Linked DNA regions of Homo sapiens. The gene in region 3 interacts genetically with the main gene of each other region. Each region holds a gene or a part of one and is shown on either strand. Other genes may lie near its edges. The genes, in order: FLT3, SPPL3 and GLB1L3.

Region 1 (3,655 bases), on a different chromosome or scaffold from region 3:
GGAGGGAGGGAATTAAAAAAGAAGGGAGGGAAGGAGAGAGGCAGGCAAATCTTGTGACTCCAAATCCTAATGTCTTCAGACTTCATATATTTTTCTTTCTGCAAAACACGTGCCTAACAAGGAGTGCAGCTGTGCTTTACAAGTATTATCTGATGAAGGAGTAAGATACTGCTTATCTCCTTTTTACAAATGAGGAACTTAAGTGCAGAGACATTCTCTGCCACAGAAAACAGCACGTTTCTTAAATGTGTTTTTAGTCCTAATATATCTATGGGCATTACCTCCAAGAACATAATATCAAACATTAGGAAAAGCATAACTCAAATAACAAAATATTCCAAGACCGAATTCAGTGACTATCTTATACACTGTCTTATACACTAAAGCCTGCTTTAGCATAGACTGTAAATAATTGTATGGAAGATTCTTGGCTACCAATTGACCTTATAATGACAGCAGTAAAAAAATGTATATTTTTTTACTGTTTAACCTAAAAAAAAATGGTTCCTCTTTTAGGATCTTATGCAATTTCTGTGGCCACAAAAGAACACTGTGTGCACTTTATATATTTTTTTCCTTTCTTTTTTCTTTTTTTAGAGATAGCATCTTGCTCTGTCACCCACGTTAGAGTACAGTGGCATGGTCGTAGCTCACTGCAGCCTCAAATTCCTGGGCTCAAGCTATCCTCTTATCTCAGCCTCCTGAGTAGCTGAGGCTACAGGCATGTGCCTCTACGCTCAGTTAATTTTTAAATTTTTTTGTAGAGACTGGGTCTCGCTGTATTGCCCAGGCTGGTCTTGAACTCCTGGGCTCCAGTGATCCTCCCACCTAGGCCTCCCAAAGTGCTGGGGATACAGGTGTGAACCACTGCACTCTGCCTACTTTTATATTATTTTAAAATTTCCTTCACATGTGTTGGTACTCATAGAACAGAATTGCGTGAGTCAAATTAGTGACCAGTAGTGACTTCTACAAAAGCTTTCATTACTTCAAAACCACTGATAATGCAGCCATAGAAAGTATCAACCAAGAATAACTAAATCACTTAGGTATAAAACTCGCAGATTCCCCAAAGACAGAAAAATCTTCGACCCTATAACTGTGACTACCTGAGAAGTGGATACAGCTTTTCTGGAAGTCATAGAAAAACATCTTAAGATCACAAAGTCTCCTGATAAAAACCAAAAAGCTTGCAGGTGAGCAGTCTGGGTATATAAGAAAAAACAAAAAACCAAAAAGCTCTACTCAGACAAACCACCTACTGTGAAGTTCACAAGAATTTGCTATTTCAGAGGGAATAAAGGATACAGCACAGTGTCAAGACCAAGCTAAGCCAATTTCCAGCCCTTCAGTTTCCCCTCTCTTTTTTTTTTGAGAAGGAGTCTCGCTCTGTCTCCAGGCTGGAATGCAGTGGCATGATCTCGGCTCACTGCAACCTCCACCTCCCAGGTTCAAGTGATTCTCCTGCCTCAGCCTCCTGAGTAGCTGGAACTACAGGCGTGCGCCACCACACCCAGCTAATTTTTGTATTTTTAGTAGAGACAGGGTTTTATCACGTTGGCCAGGATGGTCTTGATCTCTTGACCTCGTGATCTGCCCACCTTGGCCTCCCAAAGTGCTGGGATTACAGGCATGAGCCACCTTGCCCGGCCCCCTCTCCAAATTCTTACTCCTGTTATCTACAAGATCCCTTTCAAAGTTAAGAAAAATGATAAAATACAATACTCTTGAGATTATTTGCTTTTTGTCAAATCAAAATCTTTGCCCAAAGATTAAGGCAATGTCTGGTAGGTATGTGGGGAGGCAGCAAGACTGTAATCTTGAACTTGAATGATAGGGGTTAGTTACTGTCACCCTGCTTGCCGAGTGTCATGCAAGGATGAGATGAGAGGAACACAAAGAACCGTGGATATGTTGTTGAAGCCGAGGCATTTTGTGGGCTTCTCAAATGAGCAGGAATACCCTCCCAGAGTAAAATGTGGTCAATACCTTTGCTTAAAGAATGATTTGGAAAAGTGCTTCTTCCCAAGACCTAAAAGATGACCATATTTAGCTTTGGAACAGTTTGTTCCTTTTACTTTAAATGGAAGAGCATTTTCTTTCCCATAAGCATTAAATACAGTACTATATCTCCATTTTTAAGTAGTTTTAGGCTGGGCGCACTGGCTCACATGTGTAATCCCAGCACTTTGGGAGGCTGAGGCAGGAGGATTGCTTGAGCTCAGGAGTTCAAGACCAGCCTAGACAATACAGTGAAACCCCATCTCTACAAAAAATACAAAAATTAGTCGGGTGTCATGGTGCATGCCTGTAGTCCCACAACTCAGGAGGTTGAGGTAGGAGGCTTGCTTGAGTCCGTAAGGCAGAGGTTGCAGTGAGCCGAGACTGTACCACTGCACTCCAGCCTGGGTGATAGGGCCAGGTCTTGTCTCAAAAAAAATTTAAAAAGTAGTTTTAGGGGGCAAAAAACTGGGATCCCTTTTCTGACCAGGCTAAAGCTTCCTTCATTGACGCATGCAATTTTTTTTTTTTTGAGATGGAGTCGCACTCTGTCACCAAGGGTATAGTGCAATGGCGCAATCTTGGCTCACTGCAACCTCTGCCTCCCAGGCTCAAGTGATTCTCCTGCTTCAGCCTCCCAAGTAGCTGGGATTACAAGCGTCTGCCACCACGCCTGGCTAACTTTTGTATTTTTAGTAGAAACAGGGTTTCACCATGTTGGCCAGGCTGGTCTCAAACTCCTCAAGTGATCTGCCTGCCTCAGCCTCCCAAAGTGCTGGGATTACAGGCATGAGCCATCGCACCCAGCCAGACTCATGCAATTTTTAATGTATATTTAGTAATCATAATAACTGTGTTGGAAGGTTTAATAAAAGAAAGCATACTGAAATACTTTTCCTGGGGAAAGGCAATGACCACACATTTCTTAAAAAAATAAAATTGGTTATTTATACACAAGTTCCCCTACCTCCATCTCTTTAATCTTTGTACTGCTTGTGCCTAGCAAGAAATAGGTATTCTGTCAGGCACGGTAGCTCACACCTGTAATCCTAGCACTTTGGGAGGATCACTTGAGCCCAGGAGTTCAAGATTAGCCTGAGCAATACAGTGAGATCTCATCTCTACCAAAAAATTTTTCAAAAAATTAATGAGGTGTGGTGGCACGTGCCTGTGGTCCCAGGTACTCAGGAGGCTGAGGTAGGAGGCTTGCTTGAGCCCAGGAGGTTGAAGCTGCAGTGAGCTGTGATCACACCACTGCACTCCAGCCTCAATGACAAAGGGAGACTGTCGAAAGAAAGAAAGAAAAAGAAAGAAAGAAAGGAAGGAAGGAAAGAAGGAAGGAAGGAAAAAAATGGGTATTCAATTAAAGTTTGTTAAATAAAAACAGATTTTTTCTTCCTAATGCATGTTTTCTCTTCATTTTTCTTATCTGAAGTCTTCCCTTGGAATATAAGTAAGTCTTCCTCCTTCCCATTTAATATCTCATTGCCTGATTGTTTTTCAGTTTAAACAACAGGAGAATCCAATAACAAATATTTACCAATAGCTAAGAGTTACTGAAAGTGCCTTCTTAGTTATAAAAAGTTAATCCATTTTTAATGTAAGGCAAGAAGTTCACAATTAAACCTAAGAGGATAATTTACTATAGATAGAC
Region 2 (3,655 bases), on a different chromosome or scaffold from region 3:
TGAGGTCTTACCTTGGGAAGACCAGTTTTCCAGGCAGAGACAGGCGAGGAACATCACGCCCAACATTGGGCCCCAGGTGGAGCTTCCGGGATAGAACGTCAAGGGGATTGTCAGCCGGCTGAGTGGCCACCTTCACCATGACGTTGCTATTGAAGATGTAGGCTGAGAAAAATACCTGCCGAGTTGGAGAGATGCCTTTAACAGAGGGAGTTGGAAGCAACCTGCTTTCAGCATCAGCCCTCCTTGCTCTTAAGAGCAGAGTCTCAGAATGCTGTGACTGCAATGCTTTCGTTGACTGTATGATTTGAGAAAATCTTTGCTCTTCCTGTGTACTTGCCAATTTCTGCACTCTCCACACCCAGAGATTACTCCCTGACGGGGTGGCCCCCACTGCAGCGAATCTTGTCAGCCTGTTACCTCTTCTATCCTAGGAGTCACACACACACACTACCTACTGTACGACTTTTCAGCAAACAAAAGGATCGGACTGCACACCCATGATACAGTTAAGGACTGGAGAGAGAGTGATCAGCAGCTGGGCAAGCCCGACTTTGGATACTTCTAGTTAATAGTTTTCAGGCATGAATGCTTCACTTCAACACAAAGAAGGGGAGGAGCTCCAAGGACATAAACGCTTACCCAAAAGACATCATAGATGAGAAGCCCTGAGAGAAGCAGGCAGGAGACCTTGAGGCTCGGCAGGCGGACAAAGGCGATCATGGCGACACAGAGGCCCATGGCCAGTGCTGGGGAGGAGACAGGGTACAGCAGACAGCAGTCAGTGTGGACTCCAGGCTCATCCTCTTTCCACAAGCTATGGCCCTTCACAGAGTTTGCAATTCCCTCAAAAATCAGGCAGCCCTAAGCTCCAGCTTCAGAAACTTACATGCAACTGGTGCAAAACACCCGCTTCTTCAGCCTGTTTGGACTTGTGGAATTTGGGGTGATTGCTTTCCTCCTCCTAGACATAGTGCTCGGCTGTTGGAGACCCAGGAAACCAGTCCAAGACCTCCAAGCTCTCTTTTCCTGCCTTCCCTCCAATGTTGTGGATGTGTTGTCCTTGCTCCCTGCTTTAAAGTGAACTCACACCCTAGATAGCACCCCCTTTCATTCACTGGAGGCATCATCCCAGCAATTCATTAACTGCGTTATAGAAAACTAGAGAATACAGTAAAGCAAAATAAAAAAATTACATTCCCACTTTTCAGAGATTACCACTGTTCAATATCTTCCTAGAATTTTGTTTTTCTTTTTGGAGATGGAGTCTCGCTGTATCACCCAGGCTGGAGTGCAGTGGCACAATCTCGACTCACTGCAACCTCTGTCTCCTGAGTTCAAATGATTCTCCTGCCTCAACCTCCCGAGTAGCTGGGATTACAGGCACCCACCACTACGCCCAGCTAATTTTTGTGTTTTTAGTAGAGATGGGGTTTCACCATGTTGGCCAGGCTGGTCTCGAATTCTTGACCTCAGGTGATCCACCTGCCTTGGCCTCCCAAAGTGTTGGGATTACAGGCATGAGCCACTGCACCCAGCCAATAATTTTTTACATACTTTTTTTTTTTAATCTAATGAGATCACACAATCTGTTCCCCCCCTCCACCAAAGCCAACAACCCCCAGTTTCCATTTGGGTGAATTTTCACCTCATTTAATCAAATTTCTCTATAGACCCCAAAACATCTTTTGCAGATGGTTTGTCTGTGCTGGTTTCCAATCTGACATAGTCCACCCCACCACTTTTATTTTTTTTGAGACAGGGTCTTGCCCTGTTGCCCAGGCTGGAGTGCAGTCATGCGATCTTGGCTCACTTCAGCCTCTGCCTCCTGGGCTCAAGCAATACTCAGCCTCCTGAGTAGCTGGGACCACCGGCATGTGCCACCACACCTGGATAATTTTTGTATTTTTTGTAGAGATGAGGTCTTGCTATGTGGCCCAGGCTGATCTCAAGCAATCCTCTCACCCTGTTCTCCCAAAGTGCTGGGATTACAGGTGTGAGCCACCATGCCCAGCCTAAAGTCCTTTTTTTAATGACTTGCTGAAACTGGAGTCATCTGGATTTTTCTGTGCTTCTCTATTGCAGTGGTTGGCTTTTCCTCTATCCCATATATTTCCCATAAATTAGATGTTATCATTTGAGTGCTCGATCACTTCCAGCAGGGCTTTCATCCCTGCTACTCCACTGACACTGCTCCTGGGGGCTTGCCAAGGATCCCCTCATTGCTAGACACAGTAATCGACCTGTCCTCCTCTTACCCGACCTTTAGGCAGCAACCCGCCCAGCTAATGGCTCCCTCCTTTTCCCTTGATTCTCAGGACAATGTGCTCTCCTGTTCCTCCCCACTCACTGGCCTTTTCAGGCTTCTCTGTAGCTCCTCCTCAATTCCCAGAACTCCACGGGCCTTTCCTCAGATCTTTTCCTCTCTCAGTGATCTCGTCCAATCTCAAGGCTCTTGACACTATCTATCTTATATGTCATCAACTCACACATTTTAATTTCCAGCCTGAATCTCTTCTTGGAGCTCCAGACTCATACATCCTGTGGCCTAAGAGACATATATACTTGGCTGTCTAGTTGGCCTCTCAAATCTAACATGTCCAAACTCAGCTCTTAACAGTGCAGTCTTCTGTCTCCAAGCATTTACTCTTTGCTTCCAATTGTGCAGACGGAAATCTGTGATGTCGTTTTTGACCCGTCTCTCTTTTACACCCTGCCTGGCTTAAGCCGCCATCCTCTCCTGGCGTGCATTGCTGCAATGACCTCCTCCCTGGCCTCTCTGCCTCCAACTTAACCCCTAACAAGTCTCTTCTTCACAGTGCAGACAGAAGCAGCTTCTTAAACCCTAAGGCAGGTTTTATGGGGCCCCTAGCTCAAAACTCTTAAACAACTTCCCATAGAGTAAAAGCCACAGTCTTCATACTGGCTGACAAGGTCCTGCTGTGACGGTGACCCTTCAGGTCACCTCCTGCTACTTCCTTTGCCAGCCACAGCAGCCTCCTCACTCTACCCCCCATGCCGCCGCTTCGGCCACGCCGCCGCTTCAGTGCTCTGCATTTACTGTGCCCTCTGCCTGAACGATCTCCTCCCAGAACCCAACTGGCTCCGCTCCTCGTCTTTCACAGTTCTTCACGCAAGTACTAGCTTCTCAATGACAGGTGGACTTTCCTGCAATTACATTTAAGATCATACTTCCTGCCCTTGTCTTATTTTTCATTTCTCAACTTCTGATATACATAATTTCTTCTTTTTTTTAAACATTCTCACTGCCCTCAACTCCAGTGAAGGTTCCCCGAGAGCATGGCTCAGTGCTCACCCTTGTAGTCTAGGCCAGGGCCTGGCAGGTGCAGGGCCTCTCCCCTCCTTCAGCTCTCTTCCTCCACTGTTCTGCAAACACAGGTTTGATGAGGACACAGAGCTGTTGAGAAACTCTTCATGGGGTCTTGTGGTGGGATGAATGTCCAACTCCCTGGCCAGGGAGGGCACTCTCCACTGTACAGCCCAAGCCCTCAACACGCATTCCTGTGGCTCTGTTTTCTAGACAGTTCAACACAATTTCCCGCTCTCCACACATACTGTGTTCTTTTCACGCTCTACCCAGAAGGTCCTGCCCCCGGCTCCTTCATATGGAAAATCCATCCTCATTCTGGAAGAGCCA
Region 3 (2,998 bases):
CCTCAGTTTTTGTCTGGAAGTCTTTATCTCTTATTCATTTTTGAAAGACAGTTTTGCTGGATGTAGTATTCTTGGTTGCCAGTTGATTTTTCTTTTAGCATTTTAAATATATCGGTCCATTCCACGCTAGCCTGCAAGGTTTCTGCTGAAAAATCTGCTGATAGTCTTATACCCTACAAGTTTCTATCAATTTTATCATCATCATCAAAGAATTCAAATATTTTCCAACTTCCTTTGTCATTACTTGTTAGATTTATGGTTTATTTAGAAGTGCTTTTCTTAATTTCCAAGAATTTGGATATTTTAGGGTTATCTTTTTTATCAGTTTCTTTCTTAAATGCATTATAGTCTGAGAAGTTTATGTGAAGACTAGTTTAATACAGGATCAAGCTTGTAAATATTCTGAGGTATACTTGAAAGAATATGTGTATACTGTAGATGTTAGATCAATGTTCTATTATGTCAATTAGTTCAATTTTGTTAATCATCTTCTTTTAAATGTTTTATGTCTTTATTGATTGTTATTTGCTTTGCCTATTGACTATTGAAAGGTTGTATAAAAATTTCCCGCTATGGTTGTAAATTTATTTATTTCTCTTCTGTCAATTTCGCTGATATGTTTTGAATCTCTGCTTTTATCTTTCTTATGTATGTTGTATATACATTTTTGGTAAATTAAGAATTTTACCATCATGAAATGTCCCTCTTTATCTCTAATAATGCTTCTTGCCTTAAAGTATTATTTTTCTGAATATTAACAGAGCTATAGCAACTTCCTTTTGGTTAGGGTTTACATATCATTATCCATTGTTTTTCTTTTATTTTTCCAATGCCTTATGTTTTTGATGCTTCTCTTATATGTAGCATATAACTACTTTATTTGAAATCAAGACCAGCAACCTTTGCCCTTTAATTTGAAGCATTTCAGAGACTCCAATTTTATGTGCTAGACTGTTTTGTTATATCCCAGAATAAGCAGGTGCCTCTAGTGGAAAAACTGCCTAGATGTCTCCTTGTCTCTCCATTTTCTTCTTCTAGATCTTGATCCTGTAATTCTTCATTATATTGCAAGCAGATTTTTAAAAATGTGCAGCTTTTATATTAATAGCCACTGTCAGCAGTGGTGTTCATCACTATTACCTGATATTTATTTCTGGAAGTAGAAGATCTGCTTTTTAAAATATATAACATTATATATCACATAACAGGAACAATAGCAGCCTTACCATTAAAGGGTTGGTTCTATTTATGCTTTTCTCTTTCATTCCTAGACAGCAAGGTAGAAGTTCTATAACATATCCCACTCTAAACTCACCTTCATTTGAGTGCCATAAAGTATCTCAATCTTGCTCTCACTCTCCAAGTGCCTTAGGTTTTACCTTGCTAATGTGAACCAATTTCCAAATCTCAAGCCACCATTCCTTTCAGAACTGGAATTATGGATTTGTGTTCATCAATGGACGTAACCTTGGGCGATATTGGAATATTGGGCCTCAGAAAACACTGTACCTTCCTGGAGTTTGGCTTCATCCAGAAGACAATGAGGTATGTCACTCCAGTCTCTGCCTTGAGATCTCATAAACTTTCAGATCAAAATGTGAGTTGCAGTGTCTTTTTCAACCTGTACTAAATAGGCTTCACCTTTCCCACTGTCAACCTTTCTTTTCTTCTCAGGTCATCTTGTTTGAGAAGATGATGAGTGGCTCAGATATCAAATCTACAGACAAGCCCACGCTGTAAAACTGTGTCTGAACATTTTTTTTTTTTTTTGAGATGGAGTCTCACTTTGTCGCCCAGGCTGGAGTGCAGTGGCACAATCTCTGCTCACTGCAAGCTCAGCCTCTCGGGTTCACGCCATTCTCCTGCCTCAGCCTCCCCAGCAGCTGGGACTACAGGTGCACGCCACCACGCCTGGCTAATTTTTTGTATTTTTAGTAGAGATGGGGTTTCACCAAGTTAGCCAGGATGGTCCCAATCTCCTGACCTTGTGATCTGCTCTCCTCAGCCTCCCAAAGTACTGGGATTACAGGCGTGAGCCACCACTCCCGGCCGTGAACATATTTTTTGGGTTGCTGGAGTTCATCTATAAGTCATTTTTGAGGAATAAGATTTATGTTAAGACTATCAAACACAGTGTTGCCTACAATAGCAAAAATGTGAAAATAACAACAACAACAAAACAGCAGAGGAATTGTTATGTATTTTGTAGTCTATCTATATGATGCCTATTTTTAGGCTTTAAAAAGTCTTCAAAATCTTTAATGACTGATTTATCTAGTTAAATGCTTAATCCTTAGCAGGCTCTTATTCTTTAATTAAACGTGCCTTTGAGTAGATGTGAATAAAATAAAAACAAGTTTCATTTCTGCCTCCCATACTCAATTGAAGGGAAGGGAAAGGTCTGAAGCCTGGGGAAGAGTAAGGATACTGATTTCCTCATGCCAGAGAGAGTATTGCATGTACTAATGGGCAAACTCACGGTCTCCCTCCTCTCTCTCTCTCTCTCTCTCTCTCTCTGTGTATGTGTGTGTGTGTGTGTGTGTGTGCGCGCGCGCGTGCATGTGTGTGTGTGTATGTAGGAGTAGGGGAAAGGAGAGGGCAATGAACAATGTCTTTCATTTCCCTTCAACTATGTGTCTACAAGGTGACCCTGCATGTCACATCTAATCAGAGAAGGAACAGAAATTTGGTCATTTGCTTCAGACACGTGTGACAACAAAGCTAGCGCAGGGTTCTCTGTGTCTTCTTACTCCCTGTCTATCTGGCTATAGTCAAGGCTACTACTGATAGTGGGTAGGCATTAGTGAGATTAGCCACACACACATGAATATTCCAACCACTATGAAAAGCCAGTGGAGCCATTTGAAAAAAATGGCACCATTGGGAACCAAGCACTTTCTTATATACAAAACACAGCACTTGGCCTAAATTCAAACCAATGCACTATAAGCAAATCTTATCACCCTGTTAAATATAGTGCCTAGGGCTTTCAAGTAAT

The links.
Region 1: changes in GLB1L3 (region 3) and FLT3 together harm fitness less than expected from each alone (positive genetic interaction), as found in Homo sapiens cells (one study listed by BioGRID).
Region 2: changes in GLB1L3 (region 3) and SPPL3 together harm fitness less than expected from each alone (positive genetic interaction), as found in Homo sapiens cells (one large-scale study listed by BioGRID).

The regions. Positions count from the first base shown.
Region 1 is NC_000013.11:28,093,922-28,097,576, forward strand, and holds part of FLT3 (receptor-type tyrosine-protein kinase FLT3 precursor), read right to left. Parts: intron 1-3,655. UniProt on the Homo sapiens protein: Tyrosine-protein kinase that acts as a cell-surface receptor for the cytokine FLT3LG and regulates differentiation, proliferation and survival of hematopoietic progenitor cells and of dendritic cells.
Region 2 is NC_000012.12:120,768,314-120,771,968, forward strand, and holds part of SPPL3 (signal peptide peptidase-like 3), read right to left. Parts: intron 747-3,655; coding exon 640-746; intron 176-639; coding exon 12-175; intron 1-11.
Region 3 is NC_000011.10:134,317,203-134,320,200, forward strand, and holds the end of GLB1L3 (beta-galactosidase-1-like protein 3), read left to right. Parts: intron 1-1,428; coding exon 1,429-1,545; coding exon of another isoform or gene 1,546-1,581; exon of another isoform or gene 1,582-1,597; intron 1,598-1,674; coding exon 1,675-1,740; 3' UTR 1,741-2,362; downstream 2,363-2,998.